Linked DNA regions of Homo sapiens: region 2 is linked to region 1. The links come from fine-mapping of genetic effects on gene expression. A gene starts in region 1. The other region holds a variant in brackets. All regions are shown on one strand. Distances are between the middles of the regions.

What was found. PIP is the estimated chance that this variant, and not a neighbour inherited with it, causes the effect. A credible set is the group of variants that fine-mapping cannot tell apart.
Region 2: its variant is the best candidate, but not a certain one, in a credible set for the expression of KIF25 in vagina (GTEx, PIP 0.74).

Annotation. Positions count from the first base shown.
Region 1 is chr6:167,995,055-167,999,431 of GRCh38, forward strand. It overlaps KIF25 (kinesin family member 25), which reads left to right and starts at 2,617. Exons shown (of 13, transcript NM_030615.4): 1 at 2,617-3,816; 2 at 4,038-4,266. KIF25-AS1 (KIF25 antisense RNA 1) reads right to left here and starts at 2,023. Exons shown (of 4, transcript NR_103750.1): 1 at 1,852-2,023; 2 at 1,184-1,547; 3 at 459-1,049.
Region 2 is chr6:168,040,926-168,045,302 of GRCh38, forward strand. KIF25 (kinesin family member 25) reads left to right here. Exons shown (of 13, transcript NM_030615.4): 11 at 1,044-1,226; 12 at 1,636-1,791; 13 at 3,902-4,166. The coding sequence ends at 4,071. LOC105378135 (a long non-coding RNA gene) reads right to left here. Exons shown (of 3, transcript XR_943283.2): 3 at 4,269-4,377. Among named protein-coding and RNA genes, the nearest start is that of FRMD1, 36 kb to the right of the region's middle. The variant T/C (reference allele first, on the strand shown) is at 1,983.

The DNA of each region.
Region 1 (4,377 bases):
CAGCCTCCCGAGTAGCTGGGATTATAGGCGCCTGCCACCACGCCTGGCTAATTTTGTATTTTTAGTAGAGATGGGGTTTTACCATGTTGGCCAGGCTGGTCTCGAACTCCTGACCTCGGGTGATCTGCCCGCCTCAGCCTCCCAAAGTGCTGGGATTACAGGCACGAGCCACCACAGCCGGCAACGCCTGTGTTCTTATAAGCCATGTGCTCCAGGGAAAGGGACAATCATGTTATTTTGTGAAAAGCAGTGTACTTAAGCTTTGAAAAGGTGAAACTCAAAGGGAGAAGCAGGGAGCCGCCAAGGCTCTCCCGCAGAGGGAATGCTGACGTGTGAGGAGGCAGGGCCTGCTGAGGCCCTGCCTGTGGGAGCCACGGTGCAGTCCTGCCACACAGAGGGGTCCCCAGGCGGCTTATTTGTGCCCAGGCGTTAGGCTCAGGGGCTCGGGGCCTCCTTACCTGGCTTCCCTGGGGGCGCGACTTCTCCCCTCGAGTTCCATGCTCCTCAAAGATGAGCCTCAGCCACCTCAGGTGCCCAGGCAGCTCCTTTCAGCCGTGCTGACAAGAGGGATAGTGGGGACAGGCTGGTGGCTGGGGCCGGACACACTCAAGGCTCAGATGACCAAGTGACTGGGAGGGTCTCTCTCTTGCTGTGGGGGACCCTTCCCGCTTTCTTACGCCCACATTCAGTCTGGACCCGGTAACGGGTGTTTCTTTCAGAAAGGGAGCGTGCGCAGTTCTGCAAGTCCAGCTTGGTTTCAGGCCTCATGAGAGCTGCATCTGCGCTGAGGGGTCCTTGTCCCTGCAGGTCCTCGGGCCTGGGGTAGAAAGCCCCAGGCTGGGCTGCATCCTTTGGCTAAGTGACATGTGGAGGGGTCCCTGGCTATCATGACGCGTACAGCCGCGAGGCGTCCTCTGCAGCACGACACCGAGCTCCATGTCACACTCACGCTGCCTCCACGGCAATGGCCAGTCTGGGGATTGGGGTGTCCACGCTCGTCCAAGGCCCCCACGCGATGCCCACTCATCGCCACATCACCTGGCACCATCCTGGTAGGACAGAGGCGGGAGTAGAGGCCCAGGCCACTGTAACAATCCACAGCAGCAGAGCTGGGCCCCAGCATCTCCTTCCCTGCCCCACTCCCCCCTCACCAAGGGCTCCCAGGTGCTTTAGGAGCAGAGACCTCCTTGGCTGCCATGCAGACGATGGAGCAGCATTCACGGGCTGATGGCATTTGAGGCTGATGACGGACGGGGTGACTGTGGGGCCAGGTCCCCCAGGCGAGCTCTGTGAGTCCTTGGTCGTGGTGGAGACAGCGCAGCCTGGGTCCAAAGCAGTGAGGAGCACAGGCCACAGCACGCAGCCGGCCCTGGAGGACTCCATTATTTTTAAAAATGTCTCCCATACTTAGAGAAAGGAATTTGACCTGCTGGGCCCCATGGATGTCCTCTCCGGTAAAATGCCTCCGTCCCTTTGTCCTTTCAGCATGCCAGTCAAAGGTGGCGCACCTGGAGCGGGCCTTGCAGGACGTCAGTGCGCGTCACCAGCTGGAGAGGCAGAGAAGGAAGGTCCCGCACAACAGCCTGGTGGTGGGTGTGGGCGTCAGGGGAGACCTGGGGCGGCCCCGGGGAGAGGCCCACGCAGAACGTGCAGAAGCCTCCTCGCCGGAGGGACAGCGGGAGGGACAGCGGGGGGACAACAGGGGGGACAGCGGGGGGGGGACAGCGGGGGTGTGACAGCGGGGGGGACAGCGGGGGGGGACAGCAGGGGTGGACAGAGAGGTGGACAGCAAGGGGGACAGCGGGGCGGCCTGGCCGGAGGGCAGAGGGGCAGAGCTGCGGGGGCTGCGACCTGCGTCCTCTTCACCCAGGAGGCGATGGCAGCTGGAGGACGGGTGAGGGCGCCGCAGGCTGATTTAGGCTTTCGGGGTCACTCTGGCTGCTCGGTCGGGAGGCCACGACGGGGAGCAAAGGGGATGGCTGCAGTGTCACGGGGGCTGGTGGCCTGGGCCACATTGGTGGCGATGCAGGAAGTGGGACCGGCTGCTGTGAGGCACAAGGAAAGAGCTGTAGCGGGCAGTTGGGGGCGGGGGAATCTGCAGAGATGGGGGCGGGGGAATCTGCAGAGATGGGGGCGGGGGAATCTGCAGAGATGGGGGGCGGGGGAATCTGCAGAGATGGGGGGTCGGGGGAATCTGCAGAGATGGGGGGCGGGGGAATCTGCAGAGATGGGGGGTCGGGGGAATCTGCAGAGGTGGGGGCGGGGGAATCTGCAGAGATGGGGGCGGGGGAATCTGCAGAGATGGGGGCGGGGGAATCTGCAGAGATGGGGGGCGGGGGAATCTGCAGAGATGGGGGGCGGGGGAATCTGCAGAGATGGGGGGCGGGGGAATCTGCAGAGATGGGGGGTCGGGGGAATCTGCAGAGATGGGGGGCGGGGGAATCTGCAGAGATGGGGGGCGGGGGAATCTGCAGAGATGGGGACTTGCGCGGGAAAAGCAAGGATTTTGCTGTAACTGGAGATGCCGGTGGAGACTGCCCCTGCCCCTGCCCCTGCCCCTTCCTCACCAGCACCTTCCACCCACGTCTCTCACTGCCCATTAACAAGACCCAGAGGCTCTCGTGCTTTCTTGGTCGAAGGTATGAGACCTGAGATCCCATGAAATTTAATGTAAAGTCTCAGGGTTTGATTTTGCAACACGAGGATGCCAAGGTGGATGATTGAGTGGGTGACCCTCGCTTCTGTGAGGTTTGATTTTGATGGTTGCACTTTGGCCAGTTTCTCCGAATTCCACCTGCCCGAGGCCCACGAAGCCAGTGTTCCTGCGAAGCTTCTCTTCCCTGGCCATGCCGAGAGGTTCTCCAGCTGTTAGATGTGTCAAAGAATAATTCTCATTTTAAGCATCTACTTATGTAGTTCAGTGCTCCAAACATTGATATAAGAGAACATTTATTGAGTGCTTCCTGTGTACCAAGTACTTTTGAAACCATTTGGTGTATTTTCTTATTTAATCTTCACAATAGCACCACCTCTCTGGGTTGCTATAAAGACAAAGGGAGATATCAGTGAAGCACCTGGCACTTCAGAAAGTCTCACTACGCTGCAGCTTTTTTTTTTTTTAATCTGGAGCATGAAAAAGATAATATGAACCTTCCTAAGATGGAGTCAAGTCCCACAAGGAAGAATTGGTTGTGGAAGTTTCTGAGTGTTCCACCTCAAGCCTGGTCTCCTGGTCTAGCTGAGGAGCGTGCAGTGCGCGGCCCATGGAGAATATGCAGGCAGAGGCTGATCCCAGCTTCTGTGGGTTCATAGAGACCAGACGGAGGCTGTAAATCATTGGCCTATGACACCCACTTGGTTTTCAAAATGTAGAAGGAGCTGCTCAGCATGACAGGGTGGATAAACTTGCTGTGGATCCAAGACAAGATTTCAGAATGGATTTGGCAAGTTCTGAGCACATACGGAGAAGATGTGTTGCTCACTGGAAACCAGTGGAGTTTATGAGAATAAAAAGCTTCTAATTTCCTTCCAGTCATTAAATCAAGGAAATATGACAGATACTGAATTTCCAAAATCCCCTCTAAAATGCCTAAAATGTCGAGCCCAGGATGCCATTCAAAGGGATTTTCCTTGGTACTTATTACCAAGGGATACCCCTTTGCCAAGTGAACACATTTGTGAAGTATGAATCCAGAAGTTTAAAATAACTGTTCATGGCCGGGCACGGTGGCTCATGCCTATAATCCCAGAACTTTGGGAGGCCGAGGCGGGCGCATTACCTGAGGTCAGGAGTTCGAGACCAGCTTGGCCAACATGGTAAAAACCCTTCTGTACTAAAAATACAAAAATTAGCTGGGCGTGGTGGTGGGCACCTGTCATCCCAGCTACTCTGGGGGCTGAGGCAGGAGAATCACTTGAACCTGGGAGGCGGAGGTCGCAGTGAGCTGAGATTGCATCACTGCACTCCAGCCTGGGCGACAGAGCAAGACTCTGGCTCAAAAAATAAATAAATAAAATAACTGTTCACTACCCTGCAGGGGTCTTTCGAAGTGGAGACAGGTGCTGCAGATCTCACGGCCGCGTCTCAGGAGCTGGTGCCCGGTGCACGTTCAGTGGGGGATGCTCCGCAGTGCAGGCTCGCGCCCGGGTTGACACGCAGACCTCTTGATCATTGCAGGAGCTGAAACGAAATATCAGAGTTCACTGTCGGATTCGTCCTTTGTTGCCTTTTGATAGTGAATCCGACGATCCAGTTTTGCAGAGCAGGTAACCTGTGTTTGCACGGTGTGTGTATGTCTGTGTGCTCAGGGAAAAGACAGAGGAGTGGCACAATTTTAAATGCCGTCTACTGTCCTGTCCCCGGTCCCAAAGCAGGAC
Region 2 (4,377 bases), 46 kb after region 1:
TGCAACTCTCAAACTTGAGCTGCGTCCAATTCCCTGCAGCAGGTGGTGGGAACTAATAGCAGACACCACCCATGCTCAGGTTCAGCAGGGCTGGGACTGGACCCAGAGTGTGCGTTTCTGCAAGGATGCGGCTCCGGGGACCACACCTGGAGAGCCACGGGTCTGGGGCCGGAACATGAGACTGTAGTCCCATCAAAACCTGGTCTCAGTGGGTTGACACTGGAAAGGCCATTTCTCACTCATATTGAAGGCCAGTGTGGCTGAACATTCCCCATCCTTCTTGCCACCGTGGCACTTGAAACATTTGGCCTCCAAGGTTGCTCAGGCAAGGGAAGGAGAGGTGACGGGGAGGTGCTGACAATAGCCCCTGGCCAGCCCAGAGTGGGCCACAGCTGGGCACACGGCCTTGTACCGCAGGGGCTGGAAAGGCACAGGCGTGTGATGTTTAGGGAACACCAACAATCTCTACCAAAAACGCTCCCGATACAGGGGCGGTGTGGCTGCCAGTGGTGGTGGGAATAAGACCGGATTTCATGTCCTTTAAAAAAAATTGTGTATACTTTCTATGTTTTGCACAGTGAATAAATGTTATTTTGCTTTTTTAAAAAACCTAAGAAGTTTGTTTAGGAATAACACACTACAAAGACATTTGCATTAAAATTAAGAGCCCTTTTGTTAGGATTTGTGTGGAAGATTATCGAACAGATTGTAGAATTTATTTCTAAAAGGGCTCATAGATTTTCTGAGTGGGATTTTAATTAACATGATTACCAAGTCTTCCTAAGAAGCATTATTTGATTTCCTCTGGGCCAATTAGGCATTAGTTCAACCTTCCACAGTGAAGAAAGCTGCTTTCTAACTTGTGTTTTCCCCCAGAGAAGCCACTATCCCCTGGACCTCTGCGGAAATCCCACTTCTTACTGGGTGGGAGGTGTGGGCAGGAGGGTGCAGTTCAGAAGCTTCTCGGCTCTGACTGAGGCAAAGCACAGCCTCATGGCTTCATGCAACTGTTTTCCTCCTCGTCGCTCCTTGGTCCCTTGCAGCAGACCAAGCCTGCAGTGCCACCCTCCCCAGGGAGCAAACAGAGGCAGGAAGGGCAGGAAGGAGCCGCAGAGCTTCTCAAGGGGCCTTGGCTCCACAGCTGGTTCCTGGGAACCCCGCAGGGCATGCGGAGCAGGTGCAGGCTCGACTACAGCTCGTGGACTCGGCCGGCAGCGAGTGCGTTGGTGAGCAGGGGCAGGCATTTCCCTGGGGGGTGGGTGCTGCAGAAGCCTATGATCTGATGGAGCTGGATGTGCAACCAGGCAGCCCGGGAAGCTCTGGGCGAGCCAGGCATTTCCCCCTCCACAGGTGAGTTCCAAATCCCGTTACATTCTCAGGGATTGGTTCTCTTACCCCGGCAACCCGAGAGTCGTGTTCCTCACACGGGCCCTCTGGGAACAGAAAACCTGAGTTCCCAGCAGGAGCTCGCTTTGAGCTGTGAGCAGAGCCATGAAAGACACTCACTCTCATGCCTGTCCCGTCCATGGCCTCCCCTCTACCTGCCTGAGAGCCGCTCCTCCCAAGGAGCCGGTTTTGCTTTTCCTGCCTCCTTTCTTGGTGCAAACGGTGATGGTGCGTGGCGGTCCTGTCCAGGTGTGTCTGGAGTGACCGGGTTGGCCCTGAGGGAGATGGCGTGCATCAGCCGCAGCCTTGCGGCCCTGGCAGGCGTCCTGGGGGCTTTGTTGGAGCACCGTGGCCATGCCCCGTACCGGAACAGCAGGCTCACCCACCTCCTTCAGGACTGCCTCGGTAACCGTTTTCCCCAAAATGCCCCAGGATGGGGGACCACGTACCCCAGGACATGTGCACACACTTCTGGCCTGCACGTCCTCGAGGGCCACCCATGCACCCCCTGCACCTCCTGTGTCCTCGCTGTGGCTAGCTGGCACTCCCACGGCACGGTGGTCATTCTCCTGCGCCGTCTCACCTTGGCCTGATTG[T/C]GTGCTTGTTCGGTCTGTGTGTGACTTGCCTCCTGGTTGGGGCTCAGTTTCTCAAGGGTGGCAGCCCTGGCCTTTCTCTTCACCAGGGGTCCGCCAGAGCAGCTGAGGGCTCTCTAGGCTGCTGCTGCATGTGTGGCCTGGGTCCCTCCGGCTGTGTAGACCTGCTTAGGCCCCAAGTTCCTTGGGTCTTTTGGGGGCAGGTGCCAGAAGCCTGGACGCAACAGATTAAGCACCAGTGCCAGGTGGGGCACAGGCGGCCCCTGTGTGGAGTCATCCAGCTGTGGCTGGATCTGGGCTTTGCGGTTTTTGGGGAGCTCAGTTAGTGCCCCCTCCCCCGACTCAGACTCCAGACTGGTTGAAAGGGAGGACCCGAGGAAGCATTGCGGCTCTTCCTGACTCAGGGTGCAGGCAGAGTCCCCCAGAGGTGGCCCTGGGCCCTGTAGGCCGTGTCCTGAGAAACGGCCACTGCAGGACGGCAGGGGCACATGGCCACCACAGTCGGGGGGCTCCTCCTTCCTGGGAGGGCCACCCTGGGAGGTGGTGGAGGGGCCGCTGGTGCTCGGGACTCGGGGAGGCTGGAATGTTCCAGACACTCTCCCTGTCTCTCATTGTGGGGTATTTCCCCCTCTCATGGCAAATTGGCTTCCTCCACACGGTGAATAACAGGGCTGTTCACAGGAGCATATTTTTGGATTCTGCCTTTAAGAGAGAGACCACCTGGTACTCTTGGATTCCAAAGTTCGCAGCCCCAACAGAGAGACAGGGCGACCTGGGTCAGGGGCACAGCCCACCCGTGATCTCAGGGGCGGCACCGTGGGGCACACAGTACCTGAGAGCCAGCAGGTCCCTCATGGAGCCCTGGCCTTGGCCTCTGGGGTCTGCACTTTTCCTCCCCCTTAGCTCTCCCTTCCTTCTCCACTGTTTTTGGTTTTCATCTGTAATTCTTAACCCTCGTTACGGGTCCTGAAAAACAGGAAGAGACAGCATTCCTCAGGAGGAGAAGTCCTGGGCACACGGCCCCTGCCCCAGGGGGGCCTGAGGGAGCCACAGGGCCATGGGCCGTGAGCAGCAGGTGTGGGCATGAGGGAGATCTAGAAAGAACAGCCCCAGGGGGCTGAGCGTCCCTCAGGGTCATGTGCAGACTCAACCTAGGGCTGACTTCATACCTCCCAATTCCCGGGACACAGGAGTGTGAGTAGAAGGCCTGCAGCTTCCCCAGGTGAGGGGCGCTAGTGACCGGCTGCTGACCCTCCCGGACCCAGGTGAGGGGTGCTAGTGACCGGCTGCTGACCCTTCCAGAGGGTGAGGGGTGCTAGTGACCGGCTGCTGACCCTCCCGGAGGGTGAGGGGTGCTAGTGACCGGCTGCTGACCCTCCCGGACCCAGGTGAGGGATGCTAGTGACCGGCTGCTGACCCTCCCGGAGGGTGAGGGGTGCTAGTGACCGGCTGCTGACCCTCCCGGACCCAGGTGAGGGACGCTAGTGACCGGCTGCTGACCCTCCCGGACCCGGGTGAGGGGTGCTAGTGACCGGCTGCTGACCCTCCGGGACCTGGGTGAGGGGTGCTAGTGACCGGCTGCTGACCCTCCCGGACCCAGGTGAGGGACGCTAGTGACTGGCTGCTGACCCTCCCTGACCGGGGTGAGGGGTGCTAGTGACCGGCTGCTGACCCTCCCGGAGGGTGAGGGGTGCTAGTGACCGGCTGCTGACCCTCCCGGACCCGGGTGAGGGGCGCTAGTGACCGGCTGCTGACCCTCCTGGACCCCCGTCCCAGGAACCTGCCAGACGTGGCCACTTTCCCGCTGGGGCGCCGGGCGGCCCTCTCTGCAGCCGCCCATCTCGGGCCCTGGTTGCTGGCATGTTGGCACTTTCAGATGCTGCTCTTCTTTCCAGCTTGCATGTTGTTTTTCTATTTTAAAGGAGGCGATGCGAAGTTACTGGTGATTCTCTGCATTTCTCCCAGCCAGAGGCACCTGGCACAGACGTTGCAGGGCCTGGGTTTCGGGATCCGAGCTCGGCAAGTCCAGCGAGGCCCTGCCCGAAAGAAGCCGCCCAGCTCCCAAACGGAGGGGAAGAGGAGGCCGGATTGAATGCATTAACAAGTTTTTCTCCTAAAACTGTGTTTCTTGTCCTTGCTTTATAATGCATATGTGCTTAGAAATAAACAGGTTTCACGTGGACTCAATAAACCTGGCTTTATTCCAAAGCACCCTCATGAATGTGGATGGGACCTCCAACTCCTGCCAGACCATCAGGCAGGGCAGGCTTCACAGAGGAGCTCCTTGCAGTGCGGCGGCCACCAGGTGTCACAGCAGGCACTCGCTGTCCTCATCAGACTCTCCCCAGAGGCCACCCTGGGCCCTGAAGGCCCTGCCCCGGGAAACTCGGGAGCCGGC